Linked DNA regions of Homo sapiens. The protein of the gene in region 4 purifies or fractionates together with the protein of the main gene of each other region. This does not show direct contact. Each region holds a gene or a part of one and is shown on either strand. Other genes may lie near its edges.

The links.
Region 1: the proteins of KIF2A (region 4) and RABGAP1 fractionate together in Homo sapiens (co-fractionation; one large-scale study listed by BioGRID). This does not show direct contact.
Region 2: the proteins of KIF2A (region 4) and CEBPG fractionate together in Homo sapiens (co-fractionation; one large-scale study listed by BioGRID). This does not show direct contact.
Region 3: the proteins of KIF2A (region 4) and WDR35 purify together in Homo sapiens (affinity purification with mass spectrometry; one large-scale study listed by BioGRID and IntAct). This does not show direct contact.
Region 5: the proteins of KIF2A (region 4) and TIAL1 purify together in Homo sapiens (affinity purification with mass spectrometry; one large-scale study listed by BioGRID and IntAct). This does not show direct contact.
Region 6: the proteins of KIF2A (region 4) and MTF2 purify together in Homo sapiens (affinity purification with mass spectrometry; one large-scale study listed by BioGRID and IntAct). This does not show direct contact.
Region 7: the proteins of KIF2A (region 4) and GNS purify together in Homo sapiens (affinity purification with mass spectrometry; one large-scale study listed by BioGRID and IntAct). This does not show direct contact.

What each region holds. Positions count from the first base shown.
Region 1 is NC_000009.12:123,098,020-123,101,519, reverse strand, and holds part of RABGAP1 (rab GTPase-activating protein 1), read right to left. Parts: intron 2,806-3,500; coding exon 2,722-2,805; intron 2,043-2,721; coding exon 1,971-2,042; intron 1-1,970. UniProt on the Homo sapiens protein: May act as a GTPase-activating protein of RAB6A. May play a role in microtubule nucleation by centrosome. May participate in a RAB6A-mediated pathway involved in the metaphase-anaphase transition.
Region 2 is NC_000019.10:33,376,709-33,379,947, reverse strand, and holds part of CEBPG (CCAAT/enhancer-binding protein gamma), read right to left. Parts: intron 805-3,239; 5' UTR 709-804; coding exon 256-708; 3' UTR 1-255. UniProt on the Homo sapiens protein: Transcription factor that binds to the promoter and the enhancer regions of target genes. Binds to the enhancer element PRE-I (positive regulatory element-I) of the IL-4 gene. Binds to the promoter and the enhancer of the immunoglobulin heavy chain.
Region 3 is NC_000002.12:19,976,606-19,980,105, forward strand, and holds part of WDR35 (WD repeat-containing protein 35), read right to left. Parts: intron 2,275-3,500; coding exon 2,146-2,274; intron 1-2,145. UniProt on the Homo sapiens protein: As a component of the IFT complex A (IFT-A), a complex required for retrograde ciliary transport and entry into cilia of G protein-coupled receptors (GPCRs), it is involved in ciliogenesis and ciliary protein trafficking.
Region 4 is NC_000005.10:62,358,206-62,361,705, reverse strand, and holds part of KIF2A (kinesin-like protein KIF2A), read right to left. Parts: coding exon 3,407-3,500; intron 465-3,406; coding exon 374-464; intron 241-373; coding exon 177-240; intron 1-176. UniProt on the Homo sapiens protein: Plus end-directed microtubule-dependent motor required for normal brain development. May regulate microtubule dynamics during axonal growth. Required for normal progression through mitosis. Required for normal congress of chromosomes at the metaphase plate.
Region 5 is NC_000010.11:119,590,465-119,593,964, reverse strand, and holds part of TIAL1 (nucleolysin TIAR), read left to right. Parts: intron 1-445; exon of another isoform or gene 446-513; intron 514-1,847; exon of another isoform or gene 1,848-1,989; intron 1,990-3,500. UniProt on the Homo sapiens protein: RNA-binding protein involved in alternative pre-RNA splicing and in cytoplasmic stress granules formation. Shows a preference for uridine-rich RNAs.
Region 6 is NC_000001.11:93,120,783-93,124,282, reverse strand, and holds part of MTF2 (metal-response element-binding transcription factor 2), read right to left. Parts: intron 1-3,500. UniProt on the Homo sapiens protein: Polycomb group (PcG) protein that specifically binds histone H3 trimethylated at 'Lys-36' (H3K36me3) and recruits the PRC2 complex, thus enhancing PRC2 H3K27me3 methylation activity.
Region 7 is NC_000012.12:64,717,907-64,721,406, forward strand, and holds part of GNS (N-acetylglucosamine-6-sulfatase precursor), read right to left. Parts: intron 2,277-3,500; coding exon 2,116-2,276; intron 1-2,115. UniProt on the Homo sapiens protein: Hydrolyzes 6-sulfate groups in N-acetyl-d-glucosaminide units of heparin sulfate and keratan sulfate.

The DNA.
Region 1 (3,500 bases), on a different chromosome or scaffold from region 4:
CCTTTAGGATGGTGTGAGCATCTCCTTTGGGGGACACCAAGAGACGGCTTCTCTGTTGAGCACTACAGTTTCTGAAAACCTGTGCTCTTTGTAAACTGGCAGATAACCTACTGGAAAAGCCACTTGGTATTATACACCAAAAATAATAAAATTATCATTGTCTTGATTCAGTAATCTCACTTCTAGGAACCCAGGCTGAAAAATGAAGCTGTAACTAGATAAAAATTTATGTACAAAAATTTTCACTGTAGAACTGGAGACAGGCAAAAAAGCAGGGGATAAACTATTCAAAAACAATTAAATATTAAATATACTGTGCTATATTTATACAAGGAAGTACACAGCCTCTAAAAGGTTTTTGAGGAACTTTTATAACATTGGAAAATGGATGCATGCTGGTTGAAATAGAACACAAAAATGTACATAAACTATGATTACAAATAAAATGTATTCCACATTTCATCAAAATAAGATGCCATTAACTGTAAGAAATGTCATTTTATGTTCCTCTAAGAAAACATTCTGCCAATTAAACCACAAAAAGCCAATTATAAAACATCCGACTTTCAGAGATGTAAATGTGAAAAGAAATGCTTATCTCAGAATGAATGAAATTTTAGACGTTAAACACTGAACAAAGACTGAAAGAATACACACCACAGTATTAATAAAGATGTTATATGTGGAAAATGGATCATAAGGGCTTTTTTCCCTTATTTACTCTTCTTTTCCAAATTTTCTGCAAGAATATTAAAGTTTTAGAATCAGAAAATAAGTTCTGTTTAAAAACCAGATCTGGTTGGCCAGGCGCAGTGGCTCACAGCTGTAATCCCAGCACTTTGGGAGGCCAAGGCGGGTGGATCACGAGCTCAGGAGTTCGAGACCAGCCTGGCCAAGATGGTGAAACCCTACCTCTACTAAAAATCGAAAAATTAGCTGGCACGGTGGCACAAGCCTGTAATCCCAGCTAGCTGGGAGGCGAGGAAGGAGAATAGCTTGAACCTGGGAGGCGGAGGTTGCAGTGAGCCGAGATGGCGCCACTGCACTCTAGCCTGGATGACAGAGCAAGACTCTGTCTCAAACACACACACACACACACACACACACACACACACACACACACACACACACACACATCTGGTTAAACATTAATTATGACGAAGGCCAGTGTCATCCTGCTCTAGGTAATGTTGCTTTGCGCAAACATAGCCATGAGCACAGAACTTTCCCAAGTTCCTGTCCTCTGAGCTGTAAATATGTTAGTGAGGCACTTTTCAGTAAATTGCTTATCTTAGTAAAATCTGACAAGTTCTGTAATACAGGTAGAACTTAAAGAAAGAAAGCACCATGTTATAAAAACTCCTAAGCTGCCAACAAAACATTAAACAATTAAAGTTCTAAACTGGGCGCAATGGTGCCCACCTGGAGTCCAGCAGCTCAGGCTGAGGGAGGGATTTCGCTTGAGCCCAGGATTTCAAGGCCAGCCTGGGCAACATAGTGAGACCCTGTCTCTAAAAATAAAAAAAAATAAAAATAAACTAAGGTCCTCATTGTAATTGGATGTGTTACAGCAGAAGGCATGAACTCAGAACAACACTGGAAAGTGACAAGCCACAGCACATGATTCTGACCTCTGCACTCCCACCACCTCAAGCAAGACCTATCACTTGCATGACTCCTTCTCCTCAGCATCACACTGCGGACATCGACTGCCTTACAGACATTTGGAAATCATGGGGCACTTGCACTTTGAGATCTAAAGCTAGAGCTTGTTTGATTTCATCTGTACACCCTTCCAGAGAAAACAGGCGTAGTGTTAGTTGTCAACTACTGAGCCAGGACCTGTGACAGGTGCCTTATTGCTTAGATTCTCTCACTTTTGAAATCAACTGCCTCCTCCCAAAACCTGTTTATACAGCCATAAAATGAAGTAGGTGGTATAAAATCTTTTAGGTAAAGAGAAGTCTTACCCGAATTTTCTCAATTTCCACCTTATTGGCTGTCTGCTGCTTCTCCAATCTTTCACTCAACTGAGAACAAATCTAAAGAAACAAATATAAAACAACAATCTCTTGAGCAATTGTAATCATCTGCATAAATTCCATAGTGGAAGCTGGAATATGTAAATTGGAATTAACATAGTAGCAAATAGCCTGCTACCGCTCAGGAGGGGATATGAAGTCGATGGATAAGCAGGGGTTCTTCTAGCTATGCCGCCTCTGCATTCACTGGCCTAGGACTTGCAGAAACCAAGCAGCACCACACTCAATGGCCAATGGTTTCTGAACACCTGCCAGACTCATGAGCCAGCAAGAGATCCTAGTGTAGGAGGGAACAAGACCATTCTGTTATGTTCTTAAAACTCAACCAGTCAGGGAAATAACCGGTTTAAAACTACACGTAAACAAAAGTTCGTAATTCTGAATCTGAAATACATACCAAAACATACTGTGGTTTTAAGTACCTACTATGTGCTGGGCACTGCCAGGCACTCTACAAACATGGTCTTTTTAAATCCTCGTAACAACCTTCCTAGGCAGGGATGATTTTCCTTCTTTTACAACTGAGAATAAGTGAAGCCACTTGTCAGTGCAGGGGCAGAGCCAGGATCTGAAACCAGGGTGCTTGCATTTGGGTTTGGGGGTGGGGGGCGGGTATACATTTTATCCAGACTAGGGGCTCCCAGATTACACAGCCCAATCCCAGGGTACTGGAACCTACCTGCTTATAGTCACCAATGATAGAACTGTTTTTTTTAATCTCAGATTCTGCCTTGTCGAGTTCCCGACGGCACATTTCTTTTAACTGCACACATAAAAAAACAAAAGGGACTATGTTAACAGAAAAATAAAGGAAGTTCTGCCACCAACCGCTTAGTGCTAGGCTTCCCAAAAACTGCTGAACCAAACCCTGGAAGTCCTCTAATTCAGCTACTTTCTTCCTTCAATCTTGGCAGCACTAATCCCCTGTTCCTGATGCAGGAGAGGGAGAGAACAGTTAAAACTTCCAAAAACGTCAGACCCCATTTCAGATTGAGGCTTCTGCTGAAGGTCTTCCCTGCCAGTACAAGCCAACCTGTGGACCTTCACTGACAGACCAGACACAAACCAAAGAGCTCATAAGAGGACTGCGGGTTTTCAGCATCTCATGGTTTCTGTAGAAAGGGCTTTGCAGTCTCTCACCCCAGCCAGTCCTGCCTCCTGGACGACCGTGGTGTGACAGGGGAGGGGACTGCTCCCAGGCGCACAGCACCCAGAGCTCTTCCCATGCCTGCAGGTCTGTGTCTCCAATGACTATGGAGCACTGGCTCAGAACAAGACTTCCCAAGCTTGCTCTATGAGGGAGACAGCAGAGGACAAGTAGGGAAACAGCCAGGCATTATATGATGTGTGCTTTCCTTCTGCAGGAATTCTACCCCCTCTTCTTTGTTATGCTCAGATGCTGATACACAGAAATTCTCCTGCCCCAACAAAGGATGGGCTTCAACCCACTGTCTCCTC
Region 2 (3,239 bases), on a different chromosome or scaffold from region 4:
CTTTTTTTACCATATACCTTAACATTTGGGGGATTTTGATTCCCACAAAAACCTCTATCATTTAAAACCAGATATTCGAATTACAAGGCTAACATTTTTAGCTAATCAACTCTTCAGTGCTGATCCCAGAAAATAGCCTCCAATGGGTCTTTGAGTCATGGAAATGGACAACTTTCAGCCATTGACATGAGTGGTGTCGGTGGTCACACCTTTAACATTCAAGCCACAAGCTCTAAAGTCTGGAAAGGGTGAGGTCTACTGTCCTGCATTGTCGCCATCTGCTGTCGTATTTTCAGTGCTAATGGACTGTACGTTGTCTGCAAGGTTGTGTGCATGCTCAAGAAACAAATCTTTGAGTACACTTAATTCCTTGGTCAGCAATTTGATTTTTGCTTCCAACCGTTCATTCTCTTCTTTGAGCTGATTGACTCTCTGCAGTGTGTCTTGTGCTTTCTGCTTGCTTTTCAACCGGCTCTTTTTCACAGCCATGTTGTTCCTCTCTCGGCGTTGCCGATACTCGTCACTGTTTCGATCCATGGGCGAACTCTTTTTGCTCTGCTTGCTGGGAGCCACAGCTTTGCCTCCTCCCCCAGGGCCAGCAGGCACCAGCTGAGGAACCTGCTGTAAGCCGCTGGCATGTGCCTGGGTATGGATAACACTAATTCCGTTCACCCCTGGAGTGCTGTTTTGCTGCGATATCTTGCTCATTTGGGCACTCTCCCTTGCCAACACAGAACAGGTAGAAATGAGAGCAGGGTGATCAATGGTTTCCACGCTAAGCTGCCAAAAAATCTTCACATGTACCTAGTTAAAAAATAAATTGCATTAAAATATTTGAAATGACAGGATCAAATGAGATCAAACTTGTACGTACCTAACATCAGGCCAACATTAATTGATTCTGCTGAGAAAAGTCTACAGCAACTGCCAACTGTTCCAATGTTTCTGAAGTCTAAATCATTTCACTTAGAAAGGTAAGTAAGCACAGAAGCACCATCAGGCGAAACTCAGCCCACCTGGATCCCTGAGGGCACTGCCCCTCTGCGATTGTTATCAAAAATGGGAGGAAAACAAAAGACTTCCACTAATTAGGTGGCGCATGTGAACTAACAGCACTTGACAATCTCCCAGGGAGGAGCTGCAGCTGACTGTAGTAGGAGAGACACCTGCAATGAAAGGGGGGAAAAGTTTCCATTGTTGGTTCAAGTCAAAACAGAAGGCTGGGGTTGCGCACCCTGTCTCCAGCGCTCTCATGCTATCACCCCTGCGGGTTCCATGTTCTAATATGCAGAGAGGGAGTCATCGAGGACTTGAGTTCTCTCCCAGAGCTCTCTTCATCGGATATTTTGAAAAGGTAGTTTTTTGCTTTATTTTTTTAATGACCTCAAATGATAATTCCACAGTTTAACCAAATTTACTGAGTCAGTTTCTTGAATTTAGGAGCTCTGACACTCAATTTGCTCCCCATCCCACCAAGCTTGTAAAAAGTGTGTTTTTTCTTCTTGACATAATTAGTAAAACTCAAAACACACTCAACCTGAAACCACAAGGAAAGAAACAGAAGCCCTCATGATGCATCCAAGGAAGTGCGGGTCCTGGGACCCAGGCTGGACAAAGGAGCTGAGCAGCTGCCGTGCCTGTGGCCACTTCGTGCTACCAAATGAGCTCGTGTGAGCTCGGAGGACGCACCAGCTCTGAAGCATCCCTGTGCTGCTGCCTGCAGAAATGAAGGCACGGTTTCGAAAAGCAGTCACATGTGGATTACTCTGAATCCAATTAAGTCCCTACAGCTGCCCCAAGAAGTGTAAAAGTGTGACTATCCTATCAACATGAGGCCACTTCAAGACAAACTAAGTTCAGTGAACGGTGTCCACCAAGGAATCAGGGCACTCTTAGAAATTTAGAAAGCAGTGTTAGGAACATAAAACTATCCTGTTCTCTTTTCACAAAACTGCTAAAATCACATCAGTGGAAAAAATCTGGAGTCAGATTTATGCAGTGATCCCACAATGAGGGAAAGCTCAGTTAGCAAACACCAGTAGCTACACCCAAACCTTCAGCCAGGCAATTCTGTACACTGTTTATTGGTCTCTTTTTAAAAAACATCTTTGCTTTGAAAAGTCCATGTGTCATTACTTTCCATTGTTTTCAAAGCCACACAGCCGACTCTGAGCTAGTAGGTCATCTGTTCTCACGCCAACACTAAGGCAAGACAAAAAGCATCCCTCCAAACCATGAGGGCGATCCACTCCAAGCCTATCTTCAGTAATGGACAGTTCACAATTTCCCTTGGTCATCATTAGGTTGCCTCATTTTTCTTCCAGTAGAAAAGTGGCTGTTTAGTATTAATCTGAGCCACATTTAGTGCCACCTAACATTATTATTATCCATTTGGTGTCAAGTGAGAGGTGCTTTACTCAATTTTTAAGAACTTGTTTAACACCTCCCCTGAGACTGTCTTAACAATCATAATCATGTTCACCTTATTTCTCTACTTTTTTTTTAATATACCAATTATATTTTTAGCCTTTAAAGCTCTCTACAGTCAACTTGTCCATGCTCAGAGATAGCAATGATCCAAAGCGGTAGAGACCAGTGACCAGGCCAGTTCTTGTCTTGGCTGTGGCTCCCCCTATTTTAGTTTGGGCAAATCTCTTTTCTTCCATGGCTGTCTGTTCCCCACATGCAAATGAGGGATGTGGAATAGTAAGACACTTTCCTACAGACAACACACCACGACCTTCAGTCACTAACAAACAGCTCTTACTCACTACAGGGTCCACGTTCAGCAACGTTCACGCCTGTTTCCGTATCCAAAGATACAGGAACAGGGAAGGGCTTTTTCACCTCTGCCTGACTCATCTTGCAAGGTACTAGGCTGAACGTGTGTGGTAGGTGAGGTTTTAAAGGTAAGCCCTTTGGCCTGAAAAGAGTATTCACTGAACCTACAAACTGGTGAAAATGTAAGAAAGAGAAACTTGGAGATAATCAAAATAACTCCAAGAATGTTTTGTTTAGTAAGTTCTTTAACCATATAAATAGCTCTTAAAGTGAAGATTAACCAAGTAAAAGGGGATCAAAGAGCTAAGTGATTTTACACTGAAAAGGCCACTCTCATTTACGCTTTGTTCCTCCACACACATTTACTGAACACCTACAACAGGCAAAAAGTGTTTATTTGAAAGCTGGACACTCAGTCCTAAATTCAAGTCTGGCTCCTCTGTGGACAAACACTATTC
Region 3 (3,500 bases), on a different chromosome or scaffold from region 4:
AATAAATTTCTGTTGTTTAAAAAAAAGAAAGAAACTGCCTTCATGGACGTCACTGATGGCCTGTTGCTAAAGCCAATTGATACTTTTTTTTTTTTTTTTTTACCACTCCCTCCTTCTTGAACTCTCTTGGCTGCCATTAGCCCATATACTCCTTTATCTCTAAGACTCTTATATTTCTCGACATCCTTCTTCTGCCTATCCCTTAAATGTTGCTGATTTTTTTTTTTTTCCTGAGACAGGGTCTCACTCTTTTGCCCAGGCTAGAGTGTAGTGGTAAGATGATGGCTCACTGCAGCCTCAACCTCTCAGGCTCAAGCAATCCTCCCACTTTGGCCTCCCAGGTGATTGGGACTACAGGAGTATGCCACCACGCCCAGATAATTTGTTTTGTTTTTTTTTTATTTTTAGCACAGACAAGGTCTTGCTATGTTGTCCAGGCTGGTCTCAAACTCCTGAGCTCAAGCAATCCTCCCGCCTTGGCTTCCCAAAGTGCTGGGACTGCAGGCATAAGCCACTGTCCCCAGCCTAAATGTTGCTGATTCTTAACTCTACAAATGCCTCTTAGTTTTGTTCAACTATTTCAATGGTTTAAATTACCATGCATATGCTGGTGGTTCCCAAAATTTTGTGTTCAGCACAGACATTTTTGAGCTGCAGATATGTATGTCTAACTATGGTCTGGATAGATTTACTTGAATGGCCTATGGCATGACAAAATCAACATATCCAACAGAGGAATTTTCCCTTAAAATCAATCTTTCTCCACACTATTTTAATGAAAGGCATTACCATCCATCCAGCTGCCCAAGCTAAAACTCTGGATACTGCCCTGGGGACTTCCATCCTCTCATCCCCAATCCTATCTATTCTGCCTCCTGAGTATGTATAAAATCTACTTACTTCCATTCCCTTGTCATTACCTGGATGGCTACCATCCACCATAATCTCTCACCTGAATTGCCAGAGCAGTTTCCTGATACAGCTGCCCATTATCTTTCCTTCCTTTCTCTATTCTTCATATGTAGCACAGAGATGTTTCTAAAGAACAATCTTATCACATTGCTCCCATTCTTAAAACTTTTCATTGGCCTCCCAAGTGCTGTTGGACTTAAGTCCAAACACCTTAATATAACTTATGATCTGCATGATCTGGCCTCTGTTTCTCTCTCTAGATTCACTGCATACTACTCTTCACTGTTAGTATTATACCCTACTGATAATCAACTTTTTTCAATGGCCCAAACATAGCTAAGTGCAACTCCTCTGGACCTCCTCAAATACTACTTCTTAGGGCAGAGACATTCTACACACCAACCTACCTTGTGGCTAATGCCTCAGCATCAGCATCACTTCCTCCAGGAAGCCTTTCCTGATCCCTCCAAGTCTGCATTAGGTGGCACTTCTACATGCTCCTGTATTTTCCCCATCTTAGCGCTTATCACAGGATACTGTAATTTCTCAGTTACTCATCCATCTCTCCTGATCTAGGTCTGGTCATTGCTGTACCCTTAGTTCCTAAAATGATAGCTGTTGCTTTATAGGCTCTCAGAAACATTTGTTGACTACATGAAGTTACACACACACACACAGACACACACACACACACACACACACAGAGCGAGCGAGAGAGAGAAATAAAAATGATTTTAAAATAAATTATTTATCTACAGAGTTTCAAATTAAAACAAAGGTGCAGACTCTCAGAAGACCCAGTTTTATCTATTACTAGAATTTGAAAAATACAGGTTTTTAAGGCTATAAACTACAACCAACAATGACATATTCAGTTCCAATAAAAACGACCACAGACTTTTTGAAACTAAAGTCTATATATTTGTACAGACTAACCAATATAAAAAGAAATTACATAATGAGGCAGACATGTTTAAAATAATGCTGAAAAGTTAATTCAATTTTTTCAATGCCACTGTAGGAAATAAAAAAATTTCCTTGAATATACATAAAAACAGATGGTTAAAATCAAAGAACGGTTCTTGAATGTCGTCAAATTGTATATCAAATAGTTTCCCTTTTATGTCTATTTTTCAATCAGAATGCTAACATATGGTAACTAACTTAAATCTCTAAAGAAGAAAACTGTCAGCCAGATATTGATCTTAGTTCTATGTCCAATCAATACATTACCATCCACTGAACCAACTATCACAGCCCCATCTTCATATACAATGCAGATCTTCTGTCCGTCAGCATTCCAGCTCATACTGCGAACAACTGATTTATTTCGATTGTTGATCATCTCCTCAATCCAAGAGCCTGTTTTCACAAATTTAAAAAATTACAAGTCAAAACTTTCACATCTATTAAATAGTAGTTAAGAATTGAAAGCATTCCATAAAGTACGCCATGGGACAAATAACTGCAAAGTTTTCTACAACCTGAGACATTAAACTATAAAACTTCCAAATCCAACAAAAACAAAATGAAAAATTAACTTGGGCTTAACTGATAACTGCTTCAAAGATTATCACAGAAAACATAATAAATGCCCATCCTTTGTTTCTTCTTTCTTTCTTTCCCTCTCTCTTTCTTTCTGTCAATTAAAAATTAAACTTCATTTGCTTTTTCAGAGCTAAAACTACTGATTTTTCTGAAAGCCTAACTTTTCCCACTTGAACAATATGGTTCAGATCATAACCAATTAAAAAAACTCCAAGTAACAATAACTTTATACATATGCACATAAACTCTCCAATGAATAATTACAAGCATATTAAATGCAGCATATTAGTTACCATCACAAAGAGAATGAAGGCAAAAAAATACACAGCATATTAGGTAAAACCCTAAGCCTGCTTGAAAAAATTCTAATCAGTTTATACTACATTAGTGACACGACATCTCTAATGCCGAATGACAAAAATATTCTAGTTGTATGCAGGGTAGGAATGAGATGTAACTTGTCTTTTAGCATAACCAAACTAGAAGCAAAAAAATAGGCTATTTTGTTTTTGCTTTTCTCAAAGGCTTTTTGACATACCAACATGGGCAACTCTGGCCTGCAGCCAAGCAAATAATCATGTAATTTGGAATAACTGCCCAGAGCAGGATAACAGAATCGAGACTGAGACCCAGAGAAGACCTGAAGACCTACCTTGGAAACAGACAAAGTTTACTCCAGTCCACTGAACTTTCACATTCTATCCCCTACACACACACACACACACACACACACACACACACTTTTTAAAAAATTAAAGTATTATAGCATATCTTTAATGAAGACTTTTTAAATGGTATGCCCTGCCATTTAAAACAGCACACATGAACTTTTCAAAACAGCACACATGAACTAAGGCACCCTTCCCTTTTGAAGATGATAACTACAGGCCTCAGGAGAACATGTATTATGAGCTGCTTTTCTGGTAAAAGTGGATTATCTAAGTTAATCCTTCTTTTACTCACCCTCTCTCATAGACAAACTGTGAACCAGTAGTCAGAGTTGAGATAAAATCTGTATCCATAAAAGAAAAGGAAACTAA
Region 4 (3,500 bases):
ATTGTGAATATATAATCTTATAGTTCTTTTCAAGCAATCTAATAACCTATAATTGACATAATAGACAGTTAATATAGCATTATAGTTGCTGAACAATATTTTAAAGCCTTATTTCAAAGTTACCTGAATAATACCACAGAAGAATATTCCAAATTTTATGGAAAAAGGACAGTTACCTGCTAATGCATAAATTCCTTTAGAACAATCTTGGTTCTTTCCTGAAAAGTCACCACCCATAGTCTATATTTTAAAAAGAAAATAAAGAACAGACATTACTCAGGAATAACTCTTAAGAATTTAGTTCACAGAATTAAGCTATAAGGAAAAGAAACTGTAGCTTCGTACCAGAATGTAACTTTAATAAATTACTTACATGAGTTTTTCCACTTCCAGTCTGCCCATAAGCAAAGCATGTAGCCATTCCCCTTTCAAATATAGTTTCCACTAGTGGTCTAGCAGTAAACCTTAAAAATAAAATGCATCAGTCAGAATGTGTCACCAATATTTTGATGAATAATAGTAATGCTGAGTAATACAAAGTATTTTATTAATAAATAAAACTTAATAGCAAGATTCTAAACAAATCTTTGTTAAAAATTTTAAATAACAATATCGAAGAATTGATTTAAGAATTTTAAATATCATATGCTAAAATTACTTAAACTACTTAAAGCATAATTTCAAGCAATATTTCCATAATAAATAATGGTCACAATAAGGCATATACAATAAAAACAAACACAAAGTATTATAATTTCAACAGAAACAGAATAAACAAGAGTGGTAATCTCAATTTTAAAAAGTTAATAGAGGAAAAAAACTGCAAAAATATTATCTATAGACCATCTAAATAAATAGAAAAATGTTGATTACCTTGAATTTAGACAAGTAATTTATACTTAAGCAAAAAGAATATAAATTGTGCTTGTAGGAAAATGAATTCTATTAGTAAGTTGACACTCTCAATTTAGGAAAAGGATACCTAAATATTATGGTTTGAATTACATTTTTTTTTTTTTGAGACGAAGTCTCGTTCTCGTCCCCCAGGCTGGAGTGCAAATGGCGCGATCTCAGCTCACTGCAACCTCCGCCTCCCGGGTTCAAGTGATTCTCCTGCCTCAGCCTCCCGAGTAGCTGGGATTACAGGCACCTGCCACCACACCCAGCTAATTTCTGTATTTTTAGTAGAGACGTGGTTTCACCACGTTGGTCAGGCTGGTCTCAAACTCCTGACCACAGGCGATCTGCCCGCCTTGGCCTCCCAAAGTGCTGGGATTACAGGCATGAGCCACCGCACCCGGCCTTGAATTATATTTCAAATGTATTGGTATAACCCACTGCTAGAGTTAAAATAAAAAGGTGGGAAGGTATAAGAAGTACTTTTCCCCTGAGCAGTACACTAAAAAGTATGATGGAGGCCAGGCGTGGTGGCTCATGCCTGTAATCCCAACACTTTGGGAGGCTGAGGTGGGTGGATCACTTGAGGTCAGGAGTTCGAGACCGGCCTGACCAACATGGTGAAACCCCGTCTCTACTAAAAATACAAAATTAGCTGAACGTGGTGGCACACGCCTGTAATCCCAGCTACTCAGGAGGCTGAGGCAGGAGAATCGCTTGAACTGGGAGGCAGAGGTTGCAGTGAGCCGAGATCATGCCACTGCACTCCAGCCTGGGCGACAAGAGCAAAACTCAGCCTCAAAAAAACAAAAAAAAAAAAAGATGGAAAACAGATCTACAAGTAGAACATTTTATATAACTGCTGTCTTTGTTTTGTTTTGTAAAAGGCAAAACTGAAGAAAGTACAGAACAAAAGGAGCAGGAAAAAGTTCTGGTCAAACAGAACTAGGGATGAGCCTGCTAAGTAGATCAAACCCCTACCTCCCAACCCTACCCACAAAAAAACATGTAACTCCTCAATCCATAATAGTTAAGTATAAGAGATAGAGGAGAAGGATAAATATTGATAAAGTTAAGAAACATAAACATAGGGTAAAAACACAATGTTTACTAAATCATACACACAGAAACATGCCTGTATTTGTAATAATTTCTTAAAAACTATTATAAAAGTCAAACTTATATTTTATGAGGCAGGAGTAGAAAGAGGGAATGAAAAGGAAAAGTGGACTCTTCAGAAAGCTAAAAAAAAATTCTACAATTAACAATTATGATTCCCCTTTAAACATATTCTTCACAAATATCTCTATCTAGTATTCATATGTCCTTTAATTTGATCCTTTTTTTTTTTACAACTGACTACCCAGTACACTTGGTGAAGACAAAAAGAGTTGGTCTCAAAAGTATTTCCTTTGTAACACCTTCAATTCTTAGTCTCATTAACTCTAATTTTTTCCTTTCTAGGCATTTTTATGAAAAAGGGCAATCAGATATAGTATTCAAGCAATTACAAAGACAGTAATATTCCTAGATAAACCAAAATAACAATACTGCTAAAACTGGTGTTATAATTATTAGAAATGAATGTTTGCAAACTTACGTATGAAAATCTAAATCTGGCATAAAAATTTGAGATACCAATGTATAACACAGATAAATTTGAATTATTTTTAAGTTGAATACAGAAAACATACAAGAATCTCATGTACTAAAACTATCTCCAAGCTTAAAGATGACAAATTTAAATACAAGTACGGAACTTTTTCGCCTTAAGTGACAATACATACTAAATACAGATTTAGATAAATTAATAATTAACTGATAACAGGTATTTTGGCCAGGCATAACAGTGGCTCATGCCTGTAATCCCAGCACTTTGGGAAGCCAAGGCGGGCAGATCACTTGAGCTCAGGAGTCTGAGGTTAGCCTGGGCAACATGGCGAAACCTCAACTCTACAAAAAGTACAAAAATTAGCTGGGTGTGGTGGTGCATGCCTGTGGTCCCAGCTACTCAGGAGGCTGAGATGGGAGGATCACCTGAGCCTGGAAGGTCGAGGCTGCAGTGAGCTGTGATCGTGCCACTGCACTCCAGCCTGGGCAACAGAGCAAGACCATGCCTCAAACAAACATTTCAAGTTTCTTTATTAGTACAGAGATTAAAAGGTAAAAATTAAAAGTCTTCTTATCATATCCTATTCCTAGAGGTAATGTTAACATTTTCCCGAAATTTCTTATCCATATACATGGTTTGTGTGATATGTATATATATGTATATATATGTGTAATAAGCTAATTAGCAAATAGTAATGGAAACTATGATTTTGGGGAGCATTACAGAGAACAAGTGTTAATATTCATTACAGCATTTATTACATTCTCTTTGTTTAAACTCAGAATAAAACAGCATATTGCACCTCTTAAGAAATATCCCACAATCAATGTAAATTTCAAGGTGCTGATGACCACATGGCATAAGAACAAAATTCTGATTTAAAATGAATTTACCTACCTGTAAACCATTTCATTAGGAGCTGAGTCATCAAAGGCATAATCAAAACGAAATGTTTGGTTTTCTAGGTACCTTGTTAAATCTACTTTTTGTT
Region 5 (3,500 bases), on a different chromosome or scaffold from region 4:
ATTAAATTAGTATTAAGTTCTTTTTTAAAAGTCCTGGTTGAACTAAGATTGTAGGCAGACATTACTGTCACATGTGGTGCAGTCTGTTGACTTTTATATATTTTTTAAAACCTTCAAATGTAAAATCTTGAGATAAAAGCAAATGTTTAACAATTGGGATTTTTATTAGAGTTTAATACAAATAATGCATAGTTTTTCTAAGTGTACGTTTTACATATTCTCAAAGGGTTCTATTAGATATAAGTAACATGATGAAAACTGAACATGATTTTAGACGTTGATATCTAGTAGGGTTTTTTGTTTATGGAGATCTTATATTTTACATTGTGAGCTATGGATTAGGTTTTTCAAGTGGCCAGTATGTTTTAAAAGAATGTGTTCTTAACAAAGCTTATCTTAAATTGTTTCCTTAAGATGCCTGTGTGTTACTAGTGAGGTTTTTTTCCTGCAGACACACACAAGCTAAGACATATGGTTCTATCTTCAGAAAACAATATGGTGTTTAGAGCCTAGGTAGGTCTTTAAATATTCATTACCTACAGTATTACTAATTTATTTGATGGTATTTAAAGTGGCAAGAATTGCTTTGATGTTGAGCCTAAATTTCTATTTGTCATATAGTTGCTTTAAAGGTCTGTTTTCTGATGTTCTTCATTCTCATTTGACATTTATTTTGGGGTATTATGCATTGAGTAACTTGTGATCTAAAAAAACAAACAAGATCATGCTGTGTAATACTGGTGTTGGAACTGGACTGTCTGACACCTGCCTTGTGGGACACACATTTCAGGCTTGGGTTGTGTGTATCTTTGTAGTGCAGTGATTTGATCCATGGTATATCTGAATCTACAATATGACACTAAATTGTAATAGTGTTTTATTGTAGCTTATTTTATTTTCTTCATCTATCGGATGCACCAAAATTGCTAGGAATTCGTGTAATACCATGTTACACAATCCCTTCCTTTAAGGCTATTCTTTCTTCCTGGAAATAAGCTAATGATTTAGAGTATAATCTGAACATCTAAGAACAAAGCAGAAGAAAATTCTATAAACTATTACAAAATTGACTGGCTATACCATGGATTTGGCTATACTGTGGCTATAATCAAGCCCCTCATTCAAATTCAACTTAATCATATTCTTTGTTTCTTTAAAGTAAGAGAGAGAGAGTGAGTGTGTGTGTGTGTGTGTGTGTGTGAGAATATCTCATATATATAGTTGGTCAATTTAGTTGTACCTCCTGCAGCTATCTTCCATCATGCCTCCTTCCTAAAATGAAATACTGTACCGACAAATTGAACAATTAATTAGAGATCTATTGAAGGATATTATTGCAAAATCTCTTCTTGTATAGGACTTGTCAAGAACAAAAGCAAAACTATTATGGAAATTTAGCTATAGTTTTTTGTGTGAAAGTGCTGATAATTTCAGCCTTGGTAGGGCTACTCTTTTCAGAGTGAGAGCACATTCAGTGTTGAAAAAGTGTCATTAGTCTTCTGAAAGGCATGATATTCTTAACTTAAAATTCTGCCCAGTCGGACACAGGAAGTAGTTTGGCAATGTGAATTTCTGCCTACTGTGAAACTGCTAAGTTTTTAGCCCCAAATTGGATTTTAACCCTGATATTAGAGATAAAGGTGTCATTTTCAGTTTTTAATGCTTCAGTTCCTACAGTTCCTGTTCTTAGAAGACAAAATAGACTCTAAGGTATGCCTCTTCTGAATTTTTTCGTTGAGTTAAAAATCATTTTGGAATTTCCTAAGTGTTTACTCTTTGAATTGACCTCTCAATACAAAAATTAGAGCCATTTATCTTTTTTCTGTTATTTTGTGTATGTTCTTTAGGTAGCAATTATATATTTAAAGACTTGGATCTTTAGCTTGACTATTTCATAACCAGAGCAGAAAGAAAGTGAAGTGTAGAAGCTATAATTTGGAACGAATAAAGATGTCATTTCAATGAACTACCAAGAGATGATCTTACTAGGTCAGGCATTGAACTTTGTCTTAAATATTTTTGTTAGTATTTACTTTGGGACAGATTATTTTATGATACTGTAAAAGTACTTAAAATAGAATAGTACAGTATTTTAAAAGCTATACAATACGTCTCTCAAGTGTTATGATGCACGAAGGCAAATGTAAATGAAGAGGCAATCTGAAATTTGGGTACAAGAACTCAGTAAAAGAAAAGGCAGTCTGAAATTTGGGTAAAGTTTAGGTGAAATTATATAGTGAATCATGGCCTTTTAATCCTGGTAAATTAAGATATTGTATGTGTTGTTATGGAAGGCCTTTCATGTTAGTTTTTGAAATTTAGTTTGCTGCTTAACATTTAACTTTTAGTGGAGATAATTTGAAAAATAGGAAACCTTAATACTGGATTTTTAAATAAATATTTCATGACATTCTAAACTTAGATATTAACGTTTTCATCTTTGCTTTCAGTGCTAGAAATGTAAATTAATATATCTAAATATGCCTCTAGAAATTCTTCAAGATCTGTAACTGGCGGGAAATAGGTTGACTTAGAATAAAGATTTTTTTTTTTTTTTCAGATGGAGTTTCGCTCTTGTTGCCCAGGCTGGAGTGCCATGGCGCGATCTCAGCCCACTGCAACCTCCACCTCCCGGGTTCAAGTGATTCTCCTGCCTCAGCCTCCCCCAAGTAGCTGGGATTACAGGTGCCCGCCACCATGCCTGGCTAATTTTTTGTGTTTTTAGTAGAGACGGGGTTTCACCATGTTGGCCAGGCTGGTCTTGAACTCCTGACCTCAAGTGATCCACCTGCCTCGGCTTCCCAGAGTGTTAGGATTACAGGTGTGAGCCACCACACCTGGTGGAATAAAGATCTTATTAAGCAGTGACGGCTTTTTTTGTGACTATTAGATATAGAAGGTAACTAATTCCAATACAGTTTTTCCTGAAGAAATTGATGTTTAAACAGTAATGGAAATTTAAAACTATTTAAATCATTTAAAATGTGTTATATTAAAATGATAATTCTATTTTAATTTTGTTATTAGCTAGCTTCAATATGTGAAAACCAGTTTTATCCATCCTTCTTTTCTCTTAGAAGTGAGCTAACTAGCCCTTTAGGCAAGGAGCATAATGTTTAGAAGCTCAAGATCACTTGTTCGTTTCTTTCTTTCTTTCTTTCTTTCTTTCTTTCTTTCTTTCTTTCTTTCTTTCTTTCTTTCTCTCTTTCTCTCTGTCTCTCTCTCTTTCTCTCTTTCTTTTTTATTTATTTTTTTGAGATGGAGTCTCACTCTGTCGCCCAGGTTGGAGTGCAATGGTGCAATCTCGGCTCACTGCAACCTCTGCCTCCCAGGTTCAAGCGATTCTCCTGCCTCGGCCTCCCGAGTAGCTGGGATTATAGGTGCGCGCCACCATGCCCGGCTAATTTTTGTATTTTTTGTGGAGACAGGGTTTCACCATGTTGGTCAGGCTGGTCTCAAACTCCTGACCTCATGATCCGCCTGCCATAGCCTCCCAAAGT
Region 6 (3,500 bases), on a different chromosome or scaffold from region 4:
TGTTAAGTATTTTTACTATCTCAAAGAAAATAATCCAAAACATAGTAGTTCCTCAAACAGCTACACTCAATCTATATGATAATCATTAGGTACCAAGCCAAAAGAAGTACAAAAACTACATAAGGAAACAATGTAATACTACCATTATCTTCTAAAATGATTCAAAAGTTTTATCTTCTCTTCATAACAATCCTATACCGTATTCAACTAAGAAAAAAATATGATACATGAATGTTACATTTTGGCTTTTCAGTATGACAGGATATTATCTCCAAAAGTGTAATATTTTTGAAACTTCTTTTTATTACTAAAAGAAGTCACAGCTTTGGATGATAATGATGTATTGATGTAGCTTCATCAATTATAACTATCTACCATTATGGTGGAGGGATGTTGATAATGGAGGAGGCAATGCATGTGTGGCAGAAGGGGACAACCTAAATCTGCTCTTAAAAAAAAAAAAAAAGTCTTTAAAATAAAAACAGTCACAGTGCTTCCTTTATTAAAAAAAGGGGGGGGGGACACAATACACGAAACAGAATACAACTGATTCAATGTAAGATTACAGCAAGTAATTACAAATGTAAATATGTATTTACTAGGTTTCTAAAATAAAAAATACCATTAAAGTTTAGCCAGCCTCATCATATGTAAAATTATAATTCAAAGTTCAGGGATAATAAATGTGGATAACTGCCTAGTTGTGCAATATATATTCCTACGCAAAATGCCATAAAAAATCTCAATCAACTTATATCATTACAAAATTTTTTCTCTGATCTGGTGGCAAGAGGAAGGAAACTCCACATTTTAGATAAACTAAAATCACAACCTTTGTTCTATTTTGTTTCATTTTTGAAGATAAATTTCTAGAGCAGGCGCTTTAGTCTATATTACGTATAACAAGAATTGCTGAGGCAGGAAGATAACTTGACCTCAGGAGTTCAAGGCTTCAGTGAGCTATGTATGACTGTACCATTGCACTCCAGCCTGAGCAAGGGTCTCTTAAAAAAAAAAAAAGAGAGAGAGAGACTCTCCTGTCCTGTCTCTTAAAAAAAAAAAAAAAAAAAAAGAAAGAGCTGATGTTCAAAATGACTAAAGTACTCCAAGGTACTCAATTATAAAATATAAACATTATATTTAGCATACACTACTTCCCATGTTTTGAAAATAATTAATGGCATTTTATAAGATTTGGAACAAGAATATAAACAAAAGTAAATTTTTGTTAACCTAAATTTGGATTAGTGACAAAATTCAATTTGTAATTCATTTTTAGTTTATCAAAAATTTTCTATTCAAATAATTTGGAATGACCCATTATTTATGTTACCTTTTTATTGATCACTACAAACATTTGAAAGTAATCTAAATGAAAAACACTGAATAAACATGATAAACTAGCATAAATTTTATCATCTCTTTATTATTAAAAACTCACCCTAAAATCCAATTATAATTACAGTACAAAAATATAAAATACAGAAAATTAGAAACCTTAACTTCAATCTGTCAGTTACCAAAGTCTGTGAATGAGATGTCTCATCTAAGAAGTCTGAATATTTTCTTATTTTAATCCACAGAAAGAACAGTAAGAAATTATTAGTCTCTTGTTTTAGTAATAAATTTGATGGTCAAAAAGTGGAAATAATTTGCAAAACTTTTTCTTTTTTTCTAAGACATTACCTCATAGGCTACAGAAATAAAAACATGTATTATTACTGAAGCAAATTTTTTCTAGTATGTTTCAGAAGTTCAGTTGGAGCTGGGACACCCAAAATTCATAAACTGAACTCTTTTCTTGAAAAATATACTAAATGTGATTTTCATTTTCTTATATTTCCAGCCTCTCAAATAAAATCTAAACACTAAAATTTAAATTTTAATTAAAAAGGACAGCATTTGAAATAAACACAACTTGAGTTTTTATATTATATATACCCAATGTCTACATCAAGTTACTACTGCAGAATTTCATCATGTAATGCAGACAATGTACTAACAGGTATACATATGTATCTGCATATGAAGTGCTAAAAGAATAATGGCTAGAAAGAATTTTTAAACAAATGTATTATAGTATTAAATATTAAGATAATTATAAAAACCACTATAGCCACTTCTAATGCCTTACCCCTTACTTTCTGATTACTAATCAGTTTATTAAAATTTATCAAATGTGGCCATGCCCAGTGGCTCATGCCTGTAATCTCAGCACTTTGGGAGGCCAAGGTGGGCGGATCACTTAAGGTCAGGAGTTCAAGACCAGCCTGGCCAACATGGCAAAACTCCATCTCTACTAAAAATACAAAAATTAGCTGGGTATGGTGGCAGGTGCCTGTAATCCCAGCTACTTAGGAGGCTAAGGCAGGAGAATGGCTTGAGCCTGGGAGGCGGAGGTTGCGGTGAGCTGAGATCACGCCATTGCACTCCAGCCTGGGTGACAGAGCAAGACTCCGTCTCCAAAAAAAAAAAAAAAAAAAAAAAAAATCAAATGTACACATCACTCACTTTCTCTCAGACTTCATCTAAAAAAAAAGTATTTAACAGAAAACTTAACAAAAATTTGTATGATAATCCAATATCTAACATTCAAAACTCAAATGATGAATTCAAAAATTCATCAATTGAATTTCAATAATATCCTAGATTTTAAAACTACAAACTAAATCATGCATTATGTTCTCCCTGATATCCCATAAACCCCCAAAAAGCCCTTTGATATCCTATTTGATATGAAATAGGATGTCCTTCGTGTCTCAAAGCTACAAATCAAGAAATTCTTCCTAAACTTCAAATCAGTGTGCAAAATTTTTACCTAAAAAAAAGCATGACTAAGATATACATATCAAATTCCATATTATAAAACAAATTTTTTAGTTTTAACTAAAAGTAGTTAATATATGTACTTTAGTAATTCTAAATAAAAGCTAAAAATAAGGTCCCTAACTATTAAACTTATTCTAGTTACTTTTCTCTTTCTGCTATTCATTAGTTTCAAAATTTTCTTTAATGAACACACATTACTTTTAAATTCATTTAAAAAAAGACTGTAAACCAGCATAGGTAGTTACACTTCAAAAATGAGAAGCAAAATGAGATGTCAGAATGAGAGGGGATAATTTTCTATTCAGGCAGCTTCACTCTACAACTCATTTTTCTAACAATATTATTAGATCCCACCATTCCTACAAGTCAGAAATATATAAAGGAGTACCAACAAGAGAGGAAGGAAGAATGTTGGTTATATCTCTAAGTTTATAGAAAACTTAGAAGAAAAGGAGGTTGAACTACAAGTAAGATACCCAATACTAAAGATTTCTCCCTCCCTTCTATCTTTAACTACAATGACTTTCACTTCAGAAAATGAAAGAATCAAATAATATACCTCCTCCTTCTACAAATTTCCAGAGTCAACAGGCAACAAACACACAGGAGGATGAGAAGGCTGGTCCTGATATCCATACCAAACTTATTTGTCCCCAGAACTAAAAATAAAA
Region 7 (3,500 bases), on a different chromosome or scaffold from region 4:
GGATAAGGGGGGACTACTGCATTTTAGAACTGCAATTGACCAAGATTTTTTGTAAAGGGCCAGATAATAAATATTTTAGGGTATGGGAGCCATACAGTCTCTGTCCCAACCATTCTCCTTTGCTGCTGAAGCACACAAGCAGCCAAAACCAGGTAAACGAATGTGTGAGGCTGTGTTCCCGCAGGTGGGGCTAGATTGGGCTCACAGGATCTGGTCTGATGACCCCATTTTGGAGGACTCAACAGGCCCAAATGTTTGATAGGAAAGGAATAATCAGGGCTAAGGAATTTAAAACAGAAAATCAGGTTAAGTTTAAGTAGTTCAGGCTAACAGGCCCAAATGTTTGATAGGAAAGGAATAATCAGGGCTAAGGAATTTAAAACAGAAAATCAGGTTAAGTTTAAGTAGTTCATGCTAACATCAGCAAAGCCAGCATCTAGCACTTTAGTTATAAGCTTCTAAAATGTGAGGAAGACAATTTGTTGCAGTTAAAAACCAAACAAAACTTGCTTAGGAAATAACGTATTCACTTCCTTATAGGGTGACCCTTGGGCAAATCACAACTGCAAGCTCAGTTTCCTCATTTGAAATTTACCTGTTTGGGCTCTAAGGGCTGTGTGGAAATTCTATGAATTCTAACACTTAGAGCCAGATGTTCAGAAGAAACAGACAGCTGGCTCCATCTACCTTGCATTGGCCAACCAGATGCCAGCCTGGCAGGTCCATGTCCTAGCAGTGGCATGGTCAGGGACTGTTTGGCCACACATCATAATCCAAGAGGTCCAGTCCCTTGACCCTCCATTTAAGATTTAATCAGATGCTGGCTTTAAGTTCCCAGAGTCAGCCAGGGAGTACATGGTTAAAAAACATTAACTGCTATCGACATCTAACTTAATTTGGTTTAAAAGAACATTCTGAGCTAAGTAACTGTTGGAAATTGCAAAGTCAGCACATGTAAACTGGAAGTCTTGTGCTTTTATTTTAGGGACTGGACTTCCTATTTCAGGTAACTGGTACCAAGCTAGGATCTATTTCACTAACTTGGAGGAAAGACCAAAGGAAAGACCAATGGTCAAAATTCTTGACCATTCTTATTGTACTAATGGGATTATCCATATAAAAACAGTTATTTCATTTAAGTGATATAAAATAATAAATATTATCTTTTTATATTGTTACCTGGCTTTAGTTTACTGGTGTCCATGCCACTTTGGCACTATATACATTATTTAAAAGCAAACAATGAACAGTCTATCATCGAGTTTTTCTACTCATTCACATTCATTTGTCTCTAATTTGGACTAAAGATAAAATTTAATACAAAGACGGCTAAAAAATTAAGTGATAACTTTCCATCAACTTAGGACATCATTCTTCCCTCTCTTACAGTCTGAAGGTAGGAACTAAAATATTCCTTTCCCAGTGAAAGTTTGATTTTTAAACTTCATGATCTTCAAGCAAAAGATAAATGACAAGGTTCCTGCCACCAGCAGCTCAAATGCATGGTGTACTGACACCCAGTGTTACTGCTGAAAAGTTACTAAGAAGGACCGTGTGGGGAACAAATCTGACATAGCAGGTGACAGCTAAACATCCTTTATACCTCCATATCGTGCAATGGGCTTATATATTTCAACATCTGAGTTTACACCTTCTATTTTCATTGTGTGTTTAATATATTAAATTCACCAGCAAACATTCAAGTTTCTGTAGTAGGGGTTTCTGAGAAATGAAATGAAGGCATATACTCTTGCAAGCTCTAGGGAACAGGTGAACAGGGCAGCAGTGGGTCGCAGCTTACTTAAAGAAGCCCCAAGTGTCACCAATGCAAACAAGTGGTACCATGACAATAATCACAGCACGAAAATAACAAGAGCCCCATGTTTGGTGGGGAGCAGGGCTGTACCTCTGGCTAAAGTAACAACTGGCAGTGGAGAACAAAAGTTTCAAAAGCTTGATTTTCCCAGCACAACGGGCTGATGCAATTAGAACACAGTATTCCCTCTAAAGCAGAAGAATCATCATCTCACAGCAAAAAGGGCTCCCTTTGCCTTCAAGAACAGCATGTCTACTAGAAAAAACTTGGCCAAGTAAATGAAGAGAAAGGAAACTTACCCGGGGTCAAAAACCCCTGGAGTGCGACAGGTTGGCCCAGAACAGGACTGTAACATCATTAACCGATAGTTCATCTTTCCTAAAAGCTCTGGGTCTATGGTTTTAGCAATGTTAGTGATCTGGTCTGGGTCTGCAGTCAGATTATAGACTTCTACAAACACCTAGAGGACATGAAAGAATGGAGGAAAGAAAAGAGCAAAGGTTAGCCGTGAAGAAATACTCTTAACGTGACTTATTTCTAAAGGGGAAGGGAGGAGGTAGATTAAAAAAAAAAAAAATCAAGGCCCTGGAGACTCTCAATCTGTTTTCAAGATCCTCAAAGAGCTCACTGCTTCCTTGAGATGAGGGAGCATCTGTTCTGGGGGTTCAGTTGCTTCGGGTCTCTAGCCACATGCTAAAAAGGGGCCCCTGCACACCCTGTGCCTTCAGGCAGAGGCAAGAGAGGGTATGGGGAAGAAATGCATTATCTTCTGTAATTAGAACAGAAAGCAGGAGCCTCCAATGGCAAGGTCTCAGAAACAAGACTTGGCAATAAAGTTACTAAAGTGAGAGCGAATATTTAAAGGTGATTTTTGCCCTAGAATTGTGAAGTTCAAATGAGAATGATATGAAAGTACTCTTGCCTGTGTTATACAAATGTTAAGTTTTCCTATTTTAAAAAGTAATTGTGGATATATTGGGGAAGGACACAATACTAATTATTATTTCTAAAATAAGACAGGTCTAACGCAGTACTTTTCCCTCTATAATCTGTATGCTGTTCTCCAAATTGGAGTCAAATGTGAGGCTAGAAAGATGGTAGGTAATTTTGCCTATAATGGCTTCAGGTAGCTGCCCTCACTCACACAATCACTTATAAAGTAGTTATCAAACTGATAAACATTATGGGGGAGCAGGGAACAGGAACTGAGTTTGAGGAAAGCTCTCTTGCTTGTTGTCCAAAGTGCTTATCAGCTGCAAATGGAGTGGAGAATGAGTCCATTTCTGAGAAACACAGATGGGCATCTGTTCCAGATGGTCAGATGAGGGTTGCCAGATGGGGCAGGTGAGCATATGCTGATAAACAGTAAGAAACCACAAGGGACTAGAGTCCATGGGATCCTTCAGATAATCCATACCAACCTGTGTTGGCCAAAAACCACCTTCTTCCATGGATGGACTCCTGGGCCTCTGACCCCCACTCTAATCTATTACAGCAGCATTGGATTATGCTGTGGTGGGAACAGGAGTTTCCGAATACACCAGGTGCTGGTAAGCTTTCTAGAAAATGCTCCAACCAATCTACCAGGGAAGCTAACAGACAAAGCATTTATCATTCTGAAAACGTGAATTGTGCATTTAAAGTGTATATTTGGGTGGTGGTGGGAGTGGAGAGAACTCAATTC